Homo sapiens: one gene and its partner. Changing the gene in region 2 together with the main gene of any one other region gives a genetic interaction. Each region holds a gene or a part of one and is shown on either strand. Other genes may lie near its edges.

Region 1 (3,500 bases), on a different chromosome or scaffold from region 2:
ATCCTGGAGGACATGTACCATGCCATCAAGTGAGTATACATAGAGAATAGTGCAGTATCTCTGTTAAGAAGAAGCACATTGCTTCCTTTCCCAGTTTTTAGAGTCATGTCAGACTGCAGTGACTCACATGCCCTGGATTTAGCCTCAGGACTTAGTTGGGCAGCCCCCTCTCTGCCAACTGTTTCTTCCTTAAAGAAGCCCAAATGATATTGGGACTCTAGTACTCTAAGCCAGGGTCCAAAGTGCTGCTCTTAAGTAGGATATCATGGCCCCATTTTCTGAACTTAAAACAGGTACATTTTCCTGTATAGATTACAAGATGCTGGCTGGTAGAGAACCCAAGATGGGCACTGGAGTGTGAGGCCCAGGTTACAGGTCAGAAATGGGCCACTTAGTTTTTTACTGTAAATCAGAAAAGGTAGAATTGTTCATTTTATCACACCTAGTAAGAATGTGTGATCTTACTATAGAACTAAAGGCCTCACTTACAGATAGGGCTTTGAGATTATGGGACACTTCCTTTCTTTCTGTCTGCTCCCACTGGTGGGTGGAAAGCAGACCACTGAGCTGCAGTTCTGATGACCTCTCATCAGTGGAGAGTGCTAGTATGGATGAACTCCTAGTCTTGGTTTGGAACTAGTCAGGTTCAAAGCAGTGCAACTGCTCCTTCCCTTACCTCCTGACAGGAATGAGGAAATTGTAATGCCTGAGGAGCAGACAGGCTTGGTTCGGGAGAACTATGTGTGGAATGTGCTGCTTCATCGAGGTGCCACCCCTGAGGGCATATTCCTGCGTGTGCCTACTGCCAGCTATGATCTTGACCTCTTCACCATGACCTGGGGCCCCACTATTGCTGCTCTCTCTTATGTCTTTGACAAAAGCCTTGAGGAGACAATCATCCAGAAAGCCATCTCAGGCTTCAGGTAGCCCAGCTTTGGCCTTGGTCTTCACCTCCCACTAGCTCTGTGAGCTAACATGGTTTTCTCCATGCCTCTCTGACTCCTACTGTTACTTCATTAGAATGGGGTTCCCCCTGAGTTTTTGGAGGGAGGCTGAAGCTTGGGTAGGCTCAGTCTTAAACAGAAACAAAATTAAAAGGTTTCTTCCTGGGACTGACTGGGGAAGAGCCCCATGCAAGCTCAGGGACTTGGAAGGGCTGCTTGGCCTTCCAGTGACTCTGTTTCTGGGATGGGGGGTAACATTACAGGAAGTGCGCCATGATCTCCGCCCACTATGGCCTCAGCGATGTGTTTGACAATCTCATCATCTCTCTATGCAAATTCACAGCTCTCAGCAGTGAGGTGAGCAGGTGCAGGAACTGTGTACTTGGAGCTCCAAAGGAGGACCTCTCTTTTAGCCATGGATCTACCCTTATCAACAGACCTGGTTGCCCTCAGCGTCTTCCCTCACTGCCCCCACTTGAATATACCAGAGCTTAGGCCATTTCTGTCTTGCACACTCTGGGATAAAACTAGTGTTACTTCATGTAATGGGGATGGGAAAGGAGATACAGGAGTGGGGAAGGCCTTAACTAGGTTAACCCACTCCCACCAGTATTATGGGGGATTGAAGCAGAGCCAACAAAAGGACCTGAGGGAACCATCATAGGCAGAGACCTAAGAGATTTTCCTTTCCAGACATTAGCTCGGCCTTAAGTCTGTTCTCTTCCTCTTTTCCAGTCTATTGAGAACCTGCCCAGTGTATTTGGAAGCAACCCTAAAGCCCATATTGCAGCCAAGACAGTATTCCATTTGGCCCATCGTCATGGTGACATCCTGCGGGAGGGCTGGAAGAATATCATGGAGGCCATGCTGCAGCTCTTCCGAGCCCAACTACTGCCCAAGGCTATGATAGAGGTAATTCTTAGTAGGAGACTAGTGAGCGATAACAAGGCAAGAGCTGCAACATTGTATGCTACCTGTACATAGAAGTAAGTGGTTGAGAGTAATGTTGGGCCTGATGCCTGCCACAGCTCACCAGGAATGCCTCAAATGTAAGACCACAGATCTTGGGGGATAGCTGTAAAAGAAGGCTGGTAGATGCCATTGCCAGTCACCAATTGGCACAATAGCATAGGGGCAGAAGACTAGAGGAGGAAATCCAGAGAACTTTGGTGGGTGGAGGCGGGCACAAATGCAAAGGACACATGGAAAGAAATTATTTTGACTTACTTTTCCAGGTAGAAGATTTCGTGGATCCCAATGGCAAGATCTCTCTACAGCGGGAAGAGACACCATCAAACCGGTAAGAGCAGACCAGAGGCTCAGGGGCTTGGGGAGGGAGAGTCAGAACTTTGGGGCTCACCAGGCCATGTGCCCTTTTTCTACAGAGGAGAGTCAACAGTGCTGAGCTTTGTGAGCTGGCTAACACTGAGTGGTCCTGAGCAGTCTAGTGTTCGGGGCCCATCCACTGAAAACCAAGAGGCCAAGAGAGTGGCCTTAGAGTGTATAAAGGTAACTGCCCATCCACCCCTGGTGAGAAAGCCTAAACACCTTCCTATTAGATGCTACTTGGTGAACTGAAGAATAAATCATCCAGGATTTGTAACCAGGGCTGACTCTGCCCTCTCCCCCTGGCTCTTGGGGACATTCTGTTCTCTTCAGCCTTTGTCAAAGACCCCCTCTCTCTTTTGCCCTCTCTAGCAATGTGACCCAGAAAAAATGATCACAGAAAGCAAGTTCCTCCAGCTGGAGTCACTACAGGAGCTCATGAAGGTAAAGGATGAAGAAAGGAAACATGGAACAACTGGCTGAATCTGGGAGGGGTGACAGGGACAGTATTATTTCTGTCAGGGCAGGGCCAGTGGTTGGCTTCTTTTCCATGCCTACTTTCCTGCTGCTGTTCCCCTTCAGGCTCTGGTCTCAGTGACACCAGATGAAGAGACATATGATGAGGAAGATGCTGCTTTCTGCCTAGAGATGCTGCTAAGGATTGTGTTGGAGAACAGGTAAGATGAGCGTAGTCTTTAGGCAGACCCCATGCTGGGCTTGTGCCAAAGGGATGGAAGCCATCTTGCTGAGTGGGCTCTGGGGAACTGTAGGCAGCAGGGGAGAAGCTTACTCATCATACCTGTCTACTTAGGGTATAATACCAATGAGTCCTGAAAGGCCTAGGGGACCTGTTGCCCAGTGGCCCCTCTGGCTGAGACTATCTTCATTCCTTTATGTCTACACAGGGATCGTGTGGGCTGTGTGTGGCAGACTGTTCGAGACCATCTATACCACCTCTGTGTTCAGGCACAAGATTTCTGCTTCCTTGTGGAGCGGGCAGTGGTGGGGTTGCTACGCCTGGCCATTCGGCTTCTCCGGAGAGAAGAGATCAGTGCTCAGGTAAGCAGAATGCATCTTGGAGAGTGGGCAGGTATGCAAGGGATTAAGGCCACAGTTGTCAATTATGAATATGGCCTGAGACAGAGAGTACATTTAGTGCCCCATAGCATGAGTCCAGTGACCAACCACAGGGCTGGTGCAGTCTAGCGGGTGGTACTGGGAGTGAGCCTG
Region 2 (3,500 bases):
TTCACAATAGGCTCAGTGTACTGAGCAAGTACCAAATTCATATCGATTTTACAAAAAAGATAAAGTTCTTTAAAAGTAGTACATCTCTGTAGAAGATTATCCTATTTTTTGGGTTTTTTTTTTTTTTTTTTTTTTTTTTTGAGACCGGGTCTTGCTCTGCCTCCCAGGCTCAAGCAATCCTCCCACATCAGCCTCTGGAGTAGCTGCGGCTACAGATGCACCCTACCATACCGAGCTAATTTTTGCATTTTTGTATTTCATATTTTTTCTCTACAAGAGATGGAGTTTTGCCATGTTGCCCAGGCTGGTCTCAAACTCCTGGCTCAGGTTATCCACCCGCCTCATCCTCCCAAAGTTCTGGGATTACAGGCCTAAGCCACCACACCCAGCCTTAGTCTTACTTTCAAGCTTATTCAGAGTTAGGACTGTCAGTGCTTATGTTCTTGATTTACTTGGCTTTGTTAAACGTGTCAAACTCTACTTCACCTTTTCTGCAGCAGTGAAAAGATTAATGAGCAGTGCCATCCAATAGAAATATAATGCAAACATATATGTAATTTTAAATTTTCTAGTAGCTACATTTAAAATGGCCAAAAGAAACAGGTGAAATTAATATATTTACTGAGTATATCTAAGATCATTTAAACATGTGTTTTCAAAATGAAAAATAATATTGAGGCCGGGCACGGTGGCTCACGCCTGTAATCCTCGCACTTTGGGAGGCCAAGGTGGGCGGATCACCTGAGGTCAGGAGTTCAAGACCAGCCTGGCCAACATGGTGAAACCCCATCTCTACTAAAATACAAAAATTAGCCGGGCATGATGGCTGATGCCTGTAATCCTGAGACGGGAGAATCGCTTGAACCCAGGAGACAGTGGTTGCAGTGAGCCAAGATTGCACCACTGCACTCCAGCCTGGGCAGCTGAGTGAGACGCCGTCTCAAAAAAAAAGAAAAATAATGAGATTACATTTTTCCCTCCATTAAGTCTTCAGAATTCAGTGTGTTTTTACCAGCATATCTTAGTTTGGGGTAGCCACATGTAGCTAGTGGCTATCATGCTGGATAACCTGTTACTGAGAGAGCAGCCCCGCTTTGGTTAGCCTGGCATCCATTCACAGGCATCCTTTCCCACCTCTTGAAATGGAAAAGGAGATCATCCTATCAAAGGCTACTCCATCACTGACTGGGTTCCCGCTCCTCTTCTGACTCTGGGCATTTTATTCAGATACTCCCTGTATTTTATCTTTGGCCTCTCCCACTGCATATGTCTTCCTCTCCTAGATCACTCCCATCTTCAAAGAAAACCTTCCTTGTTTTCTACATTTGCCTGCCTCTGGTCTCTATAATGAAACCTGCTTAAAGAGTTACCTATATTCTCTCCAACCTTCTGCAGACTGCATGCCTGTTATTTTCACTCCACCACAACTGCCAGGGCTCCCAGTGACTTCTTTGTCACTAAATCCAATCAGTAGATGGTTTTAAGTCTTTGCTACTTTATCTCCCAGTAGCATTTGTTAGTGTGGCCCCTTCCACATGTATCTTGGTTTATGTGACACCACTCTGGATAATTCTCCCAATCCACCTTCCACATGGCAACTGGAATACTCCTTCTAGAAAGCATAAATCTATTCTTTCCTCTGAATGATAACCCTTTAGTGGCTTCACTATTAGTAAAATTAACAGTTTTATAAGTTCTTACAGTATTGGCTATATCTGTGATTCAAATGCAGTGTAAATCTTGAATACCATAATTGTTCATTCATACCTATAGCGTACAGAACCACTTTATCTTGAGCACTAAAAAGACAGCATGGTGTAATAGGAAAAGCTTGGAAATGGAGAGCTGCCCTGCCCCTTATATGTATGACCATAGATGGGCCATTTGGTCTAGACCTTTATTTACAAAATGGGGATAAGTCCTACTTTCTAGTTAGTAATGCTGTCAAAAATTAAGTGATCTAACATTTGATAGTGATTTGAAAAATTGAACGTGTTGTATGATGGAGGATTTAGCAGTAAAACAATGAACAATGGTGTACACTCCTTCCAGAAAAAGTGTACCATTTAGTTATTCCAAAAAGGTCCATTTGAAATCTTCCAAATTCTAATTGTGAAGCAAGCATGTGAAAATGTAACTAAGATGGCATGTACACACACTACTTGAGAACACAGGCCAGTCTCACTTATAATTTGCTATATCAACAAATTAAAAGGAAGAAATGATATGATCAACTTCAGAGATGCTGAAAAGACAGGAATAGATAGAAATTTCGTTAACATTGTAAGTACATTTTGGCCTGGCGTGGTCACTCATACCTGTAATCCCAGCACTTTGGGAGGCAGAGGCAGGAGGATCACTTGAGACCAGCCTGGGCAACACAGGGAGACCCTGTCTCTACAAAAAATTTAAAAGTTAGCCAGGGATGCACCTGTAGTCCCAGCTACTGGGGGTGCTGAGGTGGGAGGATCACTTGAGCCCAGGAGGTCAGGGCTGCTGCAGGGAGCTGTGTTTGCACCATTGCACTCCAGTCTGGGTGACAGATCAAGACCCTCTCTCAAAAAAAATTAAAAAGTGTATTTATTTCAATCCAAAAGCCAGCATGATGCAAATAGGAAAACCTTGTTGAAGTCAAGAATAGTCTGAGGATATTCCATTATTTACCTTGTTCTAGAGGTAATCAGCAAATTTTTGTATATTGTCATGTGTTGCTTAACATTAGAGACGTGATCTGAATTATGATCAACTTCAGAGATGCTGAAAAGACAGGAATAGAAATTTCTTTAATTGCTATTGTATCAGACGATTTCTTCATTGTGAATAACATCAGTGTGTACTTAATACAAACCTAGATGGCATAACTTACTAAAAACCTAGGCTACATGGTATAGCTTATTTCTCTTAGGTTATAAATCTGTTCGGCATGTTACTGTACTGAATATTGTATGCAGTTGTAACACAATGGCAAGCATTTGTGTATCTAAACATAGAAAGGGTGCAGTAAAAATATGATATAAAAGATTAAAATAGTACACCTGTACAGGACATTTACCGTGAATGCAGCTTGCATGACTGGGGGTTGCTCTAAAAATTTTATTTCTTGGATAATAGATTAACCTTAATTTACTGTAACGTTTTTCTTTCTTTCTTTCTTTCTGTCTTTATTTTTTAGGAGATGTGGTTTTGCTATTCTGTGTTGGCCAGCCTGGTTTTGAACTGCTGGCCTCAAGCAGTCCTCCCACTTTGGCCTCCAAAGTGTTGGGATTATAGGTGTGAGCCATGGCATCTGGTCAACATTTTACTTTCTAAACTTAATTTTTTTTTTTTAACTTTTTGGCTCTTGTAAAAACACTTACCTTAAAACGCATTATACAAAACAGCAGTACAAAAATATTTTCTCTCTTTTTTTTTTTTTTTTGAGACAAGGTCTTGCCCTATCAGGCTGGAGTGAGTGGTGCATCACAGCCCACTGCACCCGTAGCCTCGACCTCCCTGGGCTC

What was found. Genes that interact genetically often act in the same process or in processes that back each other up.
Region 1: changes in PDIA6 (region 2) and GBF1 together harm fitness more than expected from each alone (negative genetic interaction), as found in Homo sapiens cells (one study listed by BioGRID).

Annotation. Positions count from the first base shown.
Region 1 is NC_000010.11:102,367,532-102,371,031, forward strand, and holds part of GBF1 (Golgi-specific brefeldin A-resistance guanine nucleotide exchange factor 1), read left to right. Parts: coding exon 1-29; intron 30-686; coding exon 687-923; intron 924-1,207; coding exon 1,208-1,301; intron 1,302-1,679; coding exon 1,680-1,856; intron 1,857-2,179; coding exon 2,180-2,244; intron 2,245-2,329; coding exon 2,330-2,453; intron 2,454-2,642; coding exon 2,643-2,714; intron 2,715-2,852; coding exon 2,853-2,947; intron 2,948-3,175; coding exon 3,176-3,329; intron 3,330-3,500. UniProt on the Homo sapiens protein: Guanine-nucleotide exchange factor (GEF) for members of the Arf family of small GTPases involved in trafficking in the early secretory pathway; its GEF activity initiates the coating of nascent vesicles via the localized generation of activated ARFs through replacement of GDP with GTP.
Region 2 is NC_000002.12:10,806,286-10,809,785, reverse strand, and holds part of PDIA6 (protein disulfide-isomerase A6 isoform d precursor), read left to right. Parts: intron 1-3,500. UniProt on the Homo sapiens protein: May function as a chaperone that inhibits aggregation of misfolded proteins. Negatively regulates the unfolded protein response (UPR) through binding to UPR sensors such as ERN1, which in turn inactivates ERN1 signaling.